4 linked regions of the Homo sapiens genome follow. The protein of the gene in region 2 purifies or fractionates together with the protein of the main gene of each other region. This does not show direct contact. Each region holds a gene or a part of one and is shown on either strand. Other genes may lie near its edges.

The links. Proteins that work in one complex are often made in the same cells at the same time.
Region 1: the proteins of ABHD10 (region 2) and ACOT9 purify together in Homo sapiens (co-immunoprecipitation; one large-scale study listed by IntAct). This does not show direct contact.
Region 3: the proteins of ABHD10 (region 2) and REXO2 fractionate together in Homo sapiens (co-fractionation; one large-scale study listed by BioGRID). This does not show direct contact.
Region 4: the proteins of ABHD10 (region 2) and ZNF462 purify together in Homo sapiens (co-immunoprecipitation; 2 studies listed by BioGRID and IntAct, with this or other methods). This does not show direct contact.

Annotation. Positions count from the first base shown.
Region 1 is NC_000023.11:23,702,916-23,705,368, reverse strand, and holds part of ACOT9 (acyl-coenzyme A thioesterase 9, mitochondrial isoform a precursor), read left to right. Parts: intron 1-288; coding exon 289-376; intron 377-524; coding exon 525-675; intron 676-1,386; coding exon 1,387-1,475; 3' UTR 1,476-2,453. UniProt on the Homo sapiens protein: Mitochondrial acyl-CoA thioesterase. Catalyzes the hydrolysis of acyl-CoAs into free fatty acids and coenzyme A (CoA), regulating their respective intracellular levels. Regulates both mitochondrial lipid and amino acid metabolism.
Region 2 is NC_000003.12:111,981,635-111,985,806, forward strand, and holds part of ABHD10 (palmitoyl-protein thioesterase ABHD10, mitochondrial isoform 1 precursor), read left to right. Parts: intron 1-149; coding exon 150-333; intron 334-4,172. UniProt on the Homo sapiens protein: Acts as an acyl-protein thioesterase that hydrolyzes fatty acids from acylated residues in proteins.
Region 3 is NC_000011.10:114,442,375-114,445,966, forward strand, and holds part of REXO2 (oligoribonuclease, mitochondrial precursor), read left to right. Parts: intron 1-1,481; coding exon 1,482-1,559; intron 1,560-2,166; coding exon 2,167-2,278; intron 2,279-3,592. UniProt on the Homo sapiens protein: 3'-to-5'exoribonuclease that preferentially degrades DNA and RNA oligonucleotides composed of only two nucleotides. Binds and degrades longer oligonucleotides with a lower affinity.
Region 4 is NC_000009.12:106,866,074-106,869,665, forward strand, and holds part of ZNF462 (zinc finger protein 462), read left to right. Parts: exon of another isoform or gene 1-118; intron 119-3,592. UniProt on the Homo sapiens protein: Zinc finger nuclear factor involved in transcription by regulating chromatin structure and organization. Involved in the pluripotency and differentiation of embryonic stem cells by regulating SOX2, POU5F1/OCT4, and NANOG.

The DNA.
Region 1 (2,453 bases), on a different chromosome or scaffold from region 2:
TTGATCTTCATTTTAGAAGGTTGTTTCTCTGACTTTGTAAGTTCATACATTAAAAAAACTACTGAGAAAATACAGTGATGATATGTAGAAAGGAAAAGATATAGTTATTTTGGCCCTAATCTGCTCACGATGGCGTCTCTTACCATTTCTCACTGGTAGGATCTTTTCCCCCTTCTCTAACTTTATTCTTCGTTCATTTTTATTTTGCTTCAGCTAGTTGTTAGAGGAAACAATTGAGATCATCTGAATTTTGCAATATACCCCAAATTCTGTCCTTTCCCCCAACAGTGGTTCTCGACCGTTTGTGGTAGCAGTAGATGACATCATGTTTCAGAAACCTGTTGAGGTTGGCTCATTGCTCTTTCTTTCTTCACAGGTAGGTGTGTGATGAGAGATGACATACAACTTTTTTTTTTCATTTGAGCCTAGAAGTTTCTATATCAAAAAGCCACTGTTTTCTCTTATGACTGCCTTTTTCCCCTTCCTAATGCAGTTGACTGATTATAGTGTCTATAATCTGTTAGGTATGCTTTACTCAGAATAATTATATTCAAGTCAGAGTACACAGTGAAGTGGCCTCCCTGCAGGAGAAGCAGCATACAACCACCAATGTCTTTCATTTCACGTTCATGTCGGAAAAAGAAGTGCCATTGGTTTTCCCAAAAACATATGGAGGTAAGTAGTGATTATTGCTTGTCCCTAACAAAGGGAAGAACTTCTAAGGACATTTTTCTCCTTTTGAATTGGAGGAAGTGTATTGATGCCTGTCAGCACAAGAGCATGTCTTCAGGAGATTTTGCTTTTGAGATTTGGCAGCCCTGAAGGCCAAAGATGCCTGTGGCCCCCAGGCGGGCAAGCAACCACTGGTAGTCAAAAACTGATCCAGCCAGGCTGGGCGTGGTGGCTCATGCCTGTAATCCCAGCACTTTGGGAGGCCGAGACGGGCAGATCACGAGTTCAGGAGATCGAGACCATCCTGGCTAACACGGTGAAACCCCGTCTCTACTAGAAAAAAAAAAAAAAAAAAAAAATTAGCCGGGCACGGTGGCGGGCACCTGTAGTCCCAGCTACTCGGGAGGCTGAGGCAGGAGAATGGCGTGAACCTGGGAGGCGGAGCTTGCAGTGAGCTGAGATTGTGCCACTGCACTCCAGTCTGGGCAACAGAGCGAGACTCCGTCTCAAAAAAAAAAAAAAAAAAAAAACTGATCCAGCCAAAGGAAGGGGACAGGAGTCATGGCCTGCTCCTTTGGGAATGTGGCACACCCCGGCCCAACAGTGTATCTTGTTCTGTCCCAGTGTTCCCAAGTAGTCTTGTGTTTGTATGATGATATGATGGTTTTCTACGGTATTACAAGTTTCTCCAAGGTTCTCTTTCTTGTGTTTCAGAGTCCATGTTGTACTTAGATGGGCAGCGGCATTTCAACTCCATGAGTGGCCCAGCGACCTTGAGAAAGGACTACCTTGTGGAGCCCTAAGAACACCACATTTGTTGAAAACTAGCACTCTACCCACAGTGACGTGGTATCTGATGAAGACCTGATCGAGTGTATTGATTTTAGTATTGCTTCGTGTCCTCCACACAGGAGGAGGATGTATTCAGCCTTTAGGATGATCAGAAAAGCAGAAAGAGAGAGTGGCCGGATGGGGCTGAGGGGAGAAAGAATTATTAAACAATAAATACTTTCAAGACAATTTTAATTGTGAACCTACCATGTTGCCTCCCATCTTCTGAAAAAACAAAAAAATTGAGAGGCTGGGCGTGGTGGCTCATGCCTATAATCCCAGCACTTTGGGAGGCTGAGGCGGGCGGATCATGAAGTCAGGAGATCAAGACCATCCTGGCCAACATGGTGAAACCCTGTCTCTACTAAAAATACAGAAAATTAGCCGTGGTGGCATGTGCCTGTAGTCCCAGCTACTTGGGAGGCTGAGGCAGGAGAATTGCTTGAACCCAGGAGGTGGAGGTTGCAGTGAGCTGAGATTGCACCATTGCACTCCAGCCTGGGCGACAGAGAGAGACTGTCTCAAAAATTAATTAATTAATTAATTAATTGAGGATACCATTGGATGCATTCTTTTCTTACACATATTGCAACTGTCAGTATACAAGGTTTCCTGCCAGGGTATTTGGATGACGTTCTTTAAACCTAACCACTTGCTCTGTGCTGTCTAAATCCCATCAGCCGTACATGATTCCTTTGCTTCCCTCTATTTCCCAGCTTTTGTTGTCAGAGGGTAGATGAAAAGTTGGGGCGAAGGGATTTAACAAAAGTTACTGCATCCGTAAAGATTTGTGGGAAGATTTAGGTCTGAAACCATACCATTAGAAGGTGTTTAGAGATGATCTAGATAAGGAAATACAGGACCATTTGGTCATTCTTTCATTCACCAGACAGCTATTTAGCACATTCTGCTAGTGGCTCCGCAGGATATATCTGATTTAAAAAATAGGA
Region 2 (4,172 bases):
ACTTTGAGTCTGTTCTTGTTTTTTCTATTAAATGGAAATAGTATTTAACATCAATTCATTGAGATAAGAAAGTTAAGATCGAAAATATATATGGTTTTCCAAAGACTGAGTTTACAAACCATAGTTTACTTTTTGTGTACTTTGTTTAGCTTGTAGACAAAAGACGTCACTCTCATTCCTTAATCGACCAGACCTTCCAAACCTGGCTTATAAGAAGCTAAAAGGCAAAAGTCCAGGAATTATCTTCATCCCTGGCTATCTTTCTTATATGAATGGTACAAAAGCGTTGGCGATTGAGGAGTTTTGCAAATCTCTAGGTCACGCCTGCATAAGGTAGGAACAACACATTACTGAGAAAATATTGCTACTGTTAGCATTACAGTGGAGAATTACTTCTGTTCTAATCAGTTGAAGTAAATGCCAGCATTTTTATACATTATTTTAATGGTCTGTAAACTTGCATCTTGTGATTTAGGGTAATTTTAAAAGCAACCTTTAAAAGACCTTTTTTAAAGGCCTTTGTGCCACGCTGACAACCCTGGCAGAAAAGGACATCTTAAGGGAAATATTGGTAACTAAGCTCTTTAGAGGCAATAATGTATGTGACAACAAACAGATATACTAGTTGGCTTTCATACAGTCTCTTATATTATCATTTTCCACTGGGGACTTAAGGACTTTATTTGATCACTGTTTATCTAAAAGTAATACATGTATTTAAAAGTATCATAATGCAAATTTCTGCTGAGTTTTCTCTTCCCTCTCCTGTAATCTGAATATGTATAAGCATAAATAGGGATAAGTGGTACTTAACTCAAGCTTGATTTTATAATTCCTAATTTTTCACACTGAGAGTTATTTTAGTAAATAACTTTATGTTATTATAAGGTCTACCTGTAGCAGTTATATGTTTAGTATCCACTGTCCAGAAGAGATGGTATGATTTCGTAAAAAGAAGATTAGCCTGGAATTCAAGAAACATGAGTTCTAGAATAAATTCGAGCAATAACTATGACAAGACAAGTAAGTTAATAAACATTGGACCTAAGTTTGTCATCAAAAGAAGGAGGTTGGACTAGAGATAACTTCTGAGTTATTTTCTAGCACTAACAGCCTAAAAATCTATCCATCTAAATTTTTAGAAGAGTGACTCACAAACATTCATTCAATAATTCTAGAAAATACAGCTGTATATAAAACTTTCAGACTACCTGTTCAATATATTAGCAGCAATTATGTCAATTATAAAATTAAATAAGATTTAATCTTATTTCTTTTACCAAACTAATGAATTATTTTATTTTCATACTCAGAACTATGTTAAAATCTGTTCTGACTTATTCTGAAGATTGGAGTACTTTTTGGAAATAGATTCTCTAGCACTATACTGAGTGCTGCATAATAACAAAGAATTATAAAACATTGTACTTGCCTATGAGGACCTTTCATTCAGGGTGGGGAAACACAAGATAAAATACATGTTAGAAATTTGGCAGAAATACTCATCAGAATGTGATTGTGTCAAAAGAACAGTATACTTAATTGCATAAAGTTAGAGACAGTGGGATTGAAATAGATAAAGGAACGTTGAAGAATAATTCAGATTTGGGTGGGAGGGAAGTGCTGTCCAAGGAGGGGGACTGTCCTGAGCAGAAGATCATAATATCAAAAATATTGTTATCACTTTTCTTTTTTGCCACTGAATAAATTTGAATCGAGAAATCACCATTTTACCAGTTCTAAAATTTCAGCTTTGAGACTATGAGAGTTATAACCAGTTCCTGTCTCCCTATAAGACATAATGTGGCTTTTCTGCATTTTTGGATCCTGTGTGAGTATACCTTCATAAAGAATAGTGCTTAACTACAAATATTTAGTTTGAACAAGTTCCATTTTATTTGCTCTTATCAAAGTTCATCACAGTCTAATTATTGTTAACTATTGATTGCACTTTATTATAAGAGATTTTATCTTCTATTCTCTAATTTTTCAGGTTGCTTTTGTTGGGATTTTTTGCTGTAAAATTTAGATCTTCAATGATGAAATAGTTTATTACACAAGAAATAAAACATATGACTATATGAAAATGTTTTATTAAGGTCCTATCACCATGCCTAAAATAAGACTGATTCAGATCTCAGGAATATAACATATGGTTTTAAGGCTGGTATTCTCTCATAATTATTTGTAATAGAATTTTTATTTGGGACTACATCCCAGACTATTGAGGCTGCTAAGATGGAGATGTGCTACTGTTTAAAAGTTTTAAAGTGCTGAATATGTTTGGATTATCTTTGTCTCTGGATTGGGGTTCAGTGAGAGTTAACTATATTTTTTTAATGGTACCCTGTTAGTATCACCAAGTATTTATATTTTCCTTCATGAAGGAGCTGTACAAGTATTTTGCATCCTCACCATATATTTGGAAGGCAGCTAACTGTAAAAGATGCCACATTCAGCCATATCCAATTGCCACCTATGAAGAGAGAAAAGGAGAAAATTAGTTGGTGTCTTTCCCCCTTTTTTCTTCCACCCCTTCTACCCATCTCTTACATACCCTGGATTGAGGGGGAAACAGTAACTGATTTAGACTGCACCAGTTGCCCTGTTCTATTTCCCAAGGATCCAAAATCGTTTCACTTCAAACCTAAAGAAAAATTTAATTTCTTCTCTCCCCTATTTCTCATAAATCCCTTACTTACTGTACCAGCCATTCCACCAAAAAGGTTCATTTGAACTAGGCTCTGGGAAAGGATATCAGTAAAGAAGGGAAAATATATCAGTAAAGAAGATGATGGAAGAAGGTATTCCAGGTAAAGGAATCAACAGTGTGAGATGTGAAACACATAAGAAAACATAGACCTATTTTAGGAACAGTAAGTTCATCAATTTGTCTAAAGCAGTAGTATTCCCTGATGAAGTGAGTACTACTGTAAAATTTAGTAGTAAAAAAAAATTTACTGTAAAATTTATTGTGAAATCAATCTGAAATGACCAGAATATAATGGTTCAAAAAAACAGGCCAAAGCACTAAGTGTTTATGTTGTATATCACAGGGAGCACTGAAGGTAATGCTAAAATGTTAAAGAAAAAAACTGACATGTATATAGTGACTCTATTTAAAGACAGAGTCATAGAGACACAAGATAGAAGGCTACTGTGATAGTCTAGGTCTAAGATGACAAATAAACACCTACACCAAGATACTGGACTTACCAAAGTACCAAGAAAGGGATGAACATAAGAAGAAATGAGAAAGAATGGTGATGGTATAGGGCAGGCAGTATTCTGTGGCCTGGAAAAACAAACGAATAAAACAGCCTCCTCTTAAGGAACTGACATTCTAGTCAGAGGGAGATGAATGTTTAAAAACAAACTTGATTACAATACAATATGAAAAGTGTTGAGTACATACAAAAGAAAGTGACTGGTACTAAATGGGGCATATATGTCAAGTGAAGTTCCTCAGAGGAGGTGACATGACTTAAAGGGTGACTACGAATTTGGGTTGGGGAGGAAGCTGTTCTTGGCAGCAGAACAGCATGCTAAGGCTCTAAGTTATAAAAGGGTGTAACTGGGAATTAGGAGTAGTTCAGTATGACTAGAGTTTAGGTAACCTGTGGGTGTGGTATGATACTTTATACCACCATGATTTTTTATTGATTTGATACCCTTAAGGAGAGGTAAAATTCATAGATCAGACAGATAACTGAGCCTAGATAACTAGGAAGTTGGAAGGAGAAAGGGATGGGTTGGTGATGATGAATTTTATTCTGGTCTCCTTCCCTTCCATCAATTCACTAAATATACACTAAGCACCTACCACTCGCAAGGAACTGAACTAGGCACTAGGAACGCATTGAAACAAAGCTTGTGCCCATGTGGAACTTTCATTCTAATGTGGGAGATGGACCATAAATAATCAAATATATCTCAAGTAGTAATAAGTGCTATGAAGAAAATGAAGCAGAGTAAAGAATTAGAGAATGATGAAAGCAGCACAGTTTTAATAATTGAATGGTCATGGGAGGCTTTTCTGAGGATGTAATATTTGAGCCAAAGGCCTGAATGAAGTGTGGGAGCAATCTAAATGGCTATCTGGAGGAGAGTATGCCATGTGGAGAGAAAAGCTGATGAGATGGGAGCTTCAAGAAGCAAAGCGAAGATACAGT
Region 3 (3,592 bases), on a different chromosome or scaffold from region 2:
GAGTATTTTTTTTCATTTTCATAGGTTTGGGTTTTCTTTTTCCTTCGTGACTATCATAAAACATCTGTTATCCAAGCAAAATTTTTTGTTTCTTCGCAGAGATTACCAACACCAGTTTTCTTGTTTGGCTAAATCTCCTTTTTAGTAGTAGGATGTCAGGCGTATTTTAATTAAATTCTAGCCATTTCTTTCAGTGATTGTGAACTGTTTTTACCACCTTAGTAGTAATAATACCTTGGATTTATGGAATACTTTTCTATCAGAGAGTTCAAAGAGCTCATATCTATAATTTCTTTTATCCTGTTAACATTTCTATGAGGGAAGGGGTACAGTTTATTATTATCACTATCTTACAGAGGGAGAAGCTGAGGTGACTTGCTTTAATGCCGTAGCTACTGTTAACTGCCAGGACTTATCTGAGAGACTCATACTTGGATGTTCTATGAAATGGAGCTGAGAATTTGAGGGCTACTTTGTGTTTTGGATATCAACAATTACCTCTTTAATTTTTTTTTAAATATAAAAATACTGTTAAAACAGTGTAACTATCCAAAGTATGTGTGTAGTGAACTATTGGATTTTTGTCCTGTTCTATTGCTCCTTCTTACTCCAAGTTTATGTATTGTCTTGATATTTTGTATGTTTATATAAATGCGTGTTTTTTTTAAAACAAGTGTAAATGAAATCATACCTATACATACATGGTTTTGCAATTGTTTTTTTCACCTGCAATATAGATACTTTTTTTTTTTAAGAGATAGGGTCTCACCCTGTCACCCAGGTTGGAGTGCAGTGGCATGTAGCTCACTGTAACCTCGAACTCCTGGGTTCAAGTGATCTTCCTGCCTCAGCCTCCTGAGAAGCTAGGACTGTAGGGGTGTGCCACCAGGCCCACCTAATTTTTTTTTTTTTTTTTTTAATTTTGTAGAAATGAGGTCTTGCTATGTTGCCTGGACTGGTCTTGAACTACTGGCCTCAAGTGATCCTCCCACCTCGGCCTCCCAGAGTGCTGGGATTACCATGCTTGGCCTAGACACTTTTCAAAATGAACTCATAATCAAGGGTTGACAGACTTTTCTGGAAAGAGCAAGTTATTAAATTGTTTAGGCTTTGAGTGCAGTCATATGTTCTTGTCATATGTTCTTTTTTTTTTTTAAACAATCTTTTACAAATGTAAAAATCATTCTTAGCTTTCTAGCTATTAATAAATAGCTGAAGTGTGGGGCCATAGTTTGCTGACCCTTGATAGATATCTGTGTCATCTATTTGTAGGATTAGAGTTTTCAGTGGTGTGTGTATGTTCGTATGTTCTATTTTGCCTTAATGAACAGTGCTGGAATGAAGGGGGAACACTTAAAGTATCCTTATCTCTTACTTTCTCTGATATGTATATTTAGTCCTTAAAACAGCTTAAGCTTTCCCTCTGAAAGTAAGGTTATTCCTGTTGTTTCTTGGTGACTGATGGCGTTTCCCATCCACAGGGTCCTAACCTGATTATAAAACAACCAGATGAGTTGCTGGACAGCATGTCAGATTGGTGTAAGGAGCATCACGGGAAGGTAACATTACCAAATAACAGGATTGCTGCTTTGGGGATCAGTAGCAAGCTTTTTGCTCCCACACCTGAATCCGATACCATTGTTGGATGGTATTTTAAAAAGGCTTAGAGAAGATTGCATGGCAAGCCTGGGAAACTGCTTGCTTGTTTACTTTTCATCTTTGGGACCTCTCGAGATCATCTTCTCCTGAATGTCCTCTTTTTTTTCTCTCCTACATTCAGTCTGTCGCGAACGCATTGTGGATTGTCAAGTATTACTCAAGTCAGTCTTTTGGATAAGGTTAGACATCAACTTTCAGAGAAGGGGGATTGCTGCTCTCCTGTTAATAGTTGTTTCTTCCCAGAGGTTAATATCCTTGGACTTTGAACACCGTCTTTTTTGACTGTGGACATGCTATTAACAGTCAGGATCATAACTAAGTTGGCTTGGATTCTTGAAGAAAAAAAAATGGTGCAAAGATGGCAGTTGCAATTTGAACTTGAGCTCTAAAAATGGTCTATTTGTGGTTATATTTGCCCATTTTAAAAGTGAAATTTCATTTCTGGATGCCTTTGAAAACTGACTTTACATGTGTTTTTGGTGGGGGGCTGGGGATTCTCTCTTGCAGTCTGGCCTTACCAAGGCAGTGAAGGAGAGTACAATTACATTGCAGCAGGCAGAGTATGAATTTCTGTCCTTTGTACGACAGCAGACTCCTCCAGGGCTCTGTCCACTTGCAGGTAAAATCCAATCCTGTGTATATCTTATAGTCTTCCATATGTAGTGGTTCAAGAGACTGCAGTTCCAGAAAGACTAGCCGAGCCCATCCATGTCTTCCACTTAACCCTGCTTTGGGTTACACATCTTAACTTTTCTGTTCAAGTTTCTCTGTGTAGTTTATAGCATGAGTATTGGGAAAATGCCCTGAAACCTGACATGAGATCTGGGAAACACAAACTTACTCAATAAGAATTTCTCCCATATTTTTATGATGGAAAAATTTCACATGCACAGAGGAGTGGATTTAGTAATTGTTAACCTTGTGTCGTATTTGTTTTACCTATTTTTTGTTGGACATTTTAAAGGAAATTGCAGGCATCAGGACACTTCATTCCTAAATACTTCATCAAACATCTCCTAAGATAAAGACATTTTCTTATGTAATACAATGTCATTGCATTGAAGATAATTAAACATTATTCAGTATCATATGATATCTAGTCCACATTAGATGTTCCCCAAAATATTTGTTTTTGAACCAGGATTCAGTCAAGGCTCGTGCATTTCATTTAGTTATATTTCTTTAGTCTCTTAATGTAAAACTTTCCACCTATTATTTTTCCCCTGTGTCATTGACTTTCTAAAGAGACCAGGCCTGTTCTACCAGGATTTTTAAAAGGGTGACATTGCCAGAGGGAAGTTAATGTTTCTCTGAAGGTATATGTACGTTTGTATATGTAAGTCGATGTGGTAGCTAATACTGTTCTTAAACATTTATAAAAATAAGTTTTGGCATTAAGTACTAGAGCATATATTGTGTAAATGTTTCCGCCAGCCAATGTGGCTGATATCTGTTTTAAAGGTCTCATTTAAAATTTAGTGTTTTTAGTATAAGTTACTTTTTGGGGACATAAATATGCATATGATTTGTTTAAAAATTTGGATTGTAAATAAAGGTTTATCTACCTATGTGATTCAGTTAAATTTTTAGTGTTAGTGGTGTGAATTTTGTGACACTGGGAGAAAGTTTGCATATCAGGTATGACCTTAGAAAGTAACAAATAGATTTGTGCATTACATCAAGCATGTGGAATGATAGATTTGTCCTTCTGTTCATGAGAGGTCATTTACAAATTTATAAGGAGCTAAACTGACTAAGTACTTGGAAATCTGTACTTGTAAGCTAATCACATTTACCCAAACCTGATTTAGAAATATAGAGGTGCTTTTAGGAATTGTTTGAATTTTAAAAAATCATCTCCATTTCAAATACAACTTATGAATTTTGATATCCTGTTGTATAATACTAGAAATATAGAGATGCAGTATGCTTC
Region 4 (3,592 bases), on a different chromosome or scaffold from region 2:
AAACTTGGAGGAGATTCAGAACCAGTTAATATATTCTAAGGAGGCTAATTGGACCTTGCTTTCAACTAAGAAGAAATATAGAAAGGTACCAGCTTCAACAGAAATAAGGAACACATTGGTGAGCAACTTACAACAGCATTTTTCTTGCTTTGCTTTCTCATTATGTGTCAGATTTTTTTGTGTAAAGTTCCTTATGTCTAAAATATTTTTGTACATATTGAAGTGGTTTTAGATTCCAGATGTAATTATATTCTGTTGAGTAGCTGGTAGCACTGTCACTCAGTAAATGCACAGTGCTGTATATGACAACATCACATTTTTCAAACCAAACTGTTGTGTCATTAATTGAGGGTTATTGTTCTTCTGAGGGGTGTGAAAGGAGAGGGGAAATACATGGTTCTTTAGCTGATAATTGTCCATGGTCAATGAAGTAAAACCATGTTTGTGCAGACAAAAATGTATGGTTTCAGTTGACGTGTATGCTTATTTAAAAATACTTCTGTTAGATCTCTGCTCCTTTATGAAAAACCTAGGCCTCTCCAAGAGCACTTAAAAAAAATCCTACTTGGAATCATAACTTTTATTATTCATTTTTGAACATTATCTTTTGATACCATTACTTTTGCTCTTAAGTGAAATTTCGCCAATATTATATTTAAATTTGCTAATGCATAAATGGATGCACCAAACTGGGTGTCCAAACTGGGAAGTTCAGTTGCAATGGATAAAGAGTTATTTGGAAAAGTAATTACCAGATAATTTTACATCTAATTAACCATGTATGTTTATGTAAACATAAGTACATTATATATTGATCTTGAAACAAACTTTCATGATATCTTTTTTTATTGTTATTGATAGCAGGACAATTGGTTCATTTGCTCATTTCAGCAGGGGGGAAACATCTGACAATCTGGTTGTCAGTCCAGCTGTTTGACTCTCCACATTTTTTACTTTGCAACCAAATGTGTTGGCGTCTTAGAGTTGAACTTTTCTGGAAGGGAAAAAATAGGTATTTAAGAGGCATCTTGGAATTTGGAAATGCATTCTAACTGGTTATCTAAGACACATCCATCTCTGATGCCCTTCACCAGCATGGCAAACACCATAATATTTAAGGACATGGTTTTTTGAATTTTTCTAGACATACCCATTTGAATTAAGACAAGTATTTTGAATAAACCACCATGAGAGAAATAAAAAGTATTAAATCAGACATTTTCATTTAATGTCAAAGCTCAAAGATCATTTTTGTTTATGAGACAAGTTCATGTGGCTTATTATGCAAATTTTTTGCCATGGCTCTAATATATCACAGGGAGAAATCATGGAGAAATATTTGCGAGCTATGATGCATCCTGCCATAAAAAAATTCTTGTTGGATCCTCACATTGCATAATATTTCTCATATTGGATTTATGTCAGTCTAATTCATTGACCATATTCCCCGAGGAATTGTTTTTTCCCCCTTACTCTTTGGAGTTGGAGACAACTTTTAGAGAAAAAAAAAAAAACAAACTTATCTGCTCTTCCTAATGAATCTTCCGGAAGACAGCAGAAGAAAAAAAATCCAACTCTACTAATGGACTTTAGAGTACTTGTGGTCGGTTTTCCTGAAAGAAAGGAATGGTAAAGTTGCAATGGGAAAGAGTCCTTTTTTCTGTGTGATGGAGTTTAATAGGGTCTAGTCTGTCTTAAATTATTCCTTGATGTTGCAATTACTTGGTTAAGGTAACCTTACTTATCTTCTTTATGGTATGTGCCTTTTTCAGACTTACACTTCACTGCATCATGAAATTGACAAAACTGTATCAGATATTCTAAATTGATAATTGGAGAACAGAGATGCTGTTTCATAATGCCGCAGTCACAAATAGGAGATACATAATGGACTCTTACTGCTAAGGATCTAACATGAATGTATGACTGGGATGATTGGTATATTCAGCAGAAGTGGAGGGAGACTATTTCCATGACTGAAAGCTAAAATCCAGTGAACTGAAAAAAAAAAAAAATCAGTGTGTGTAAAAGCAAGTATCTTGTGAGTTTCACATACTTATGGAGTATGATGGCTTTGAGAGAAACATTAGCTAGGTGTTGGTGACCTATTAATTGATTATGAGAAAACAGAGAGGAGAGTAGATAATGCTAGAAGAAAATTCCTCTCCTTGTGTGATATGCCAAGACATCTGGCAGATGTTATGTTGGGCCCTAAGGAATGGACAGTTTAATTTTAGCCCTTGCAAGGAAATGGGAAGTTCTAAGCTCTTTTAATAGCACAAGTCTTAGTTTGGGGAAGGTTGCTTACAAAAATAAGAAAGAAAGGAAAAGAGGCACTTAGTGTTATGTGGAAGAACTCTAGGGAGTAGGGAGTGAAAACTGAAGTTTCGGGGTGAGGAGCAAAAATATTATTTCTCATGCAGAAATTACCAAAATTATTTTAAAAGTGACAAATATGTACACTGTAAGTAAGGACTATTAGTTATTTAATATTCACCAGGCAGAACTTCCAACTTAGAAGCTAGTTGTTTTAGGCCCTAGATCATTTAGATGAAGTCTCCTCCTTCCACTTGCATTATACTGAAGAGGAAACTGGCACAAAGACATGAAGTGACTTGCACAAGGTCAGAAAGTTCAGTTGTAACCGAGCCAGGCCTAGAACTCAGGTCGGCCGACTCCAGCCTAGTGCCCTTTCCACTACCCCATTGCATTTGATTGTTGAGGGTTGTGAAATAGCTGCTCTCTTCTCCAGGGCCCACAGCTTTCTGAGAAACTCTGTACTCATACACTAGTGGGCAGGAGTATGGATTTTTCTTAGTTGGATTTAACACGTTGGGGAGCCCAGGGTTGAGCGTGGTTTCATTCATAGATCCAGAGCCCAATTTTGTTCATGTGACATTCAGTAAAGTGTTAGCTCCCGGGTTTGTAGCTGTACTTTTCTTTTCATCTTTCCTGCTCTCATCTCTCATTCCATCATCCAAGGGCTTGGGAGCCCTTCTCAAATGCCCTTCTTTGGAAGTTTGTGTGAGTCTATTGCAACTTACAATAGTGCCCACAATTGGACTCTGAGGATCTATTTTGCAACGTGGTGCAGATTTAAATTGGCTCCTTTCAGAGATGCCATTTTGTAATACTGATGAATGGCTGAGAGGGTGAAATCCAGTCTGAAACAATTACTGGTGGTTTTCCAATGTTCTTACTCATTCAAAATGTGCCCTCCGTGTATCTTCTTGGAGCCCAACTCTCTTGCAGACTAATGGCTAACCTTTTCCCATTTTCCCAGTATACATGAAATCATCCTTAAGATGACTTTTAACAACACAGACATTTAACCATGAGCAATGGGACAGTCCTGTAAGGAAGGGTGCAATGGGTTTCCACTTCTGTCTCTTCTTGGATGAGCAAAAGTGATTTTGTAAAGAAGAAGAGTGATGTTTGGAAGTTTCCACATTTTCTAAGCTCCTTCCAAACGAATGCATCAATTTTTAATCCAGGAGGCAGTCTGGAGAAGGTAGTGCTGGATGTGGACTTCTGGCAGAAACACAGTTAACGCTGTAAACAGTTGAACCTCAGTGTGGCACTCCTCCAAATG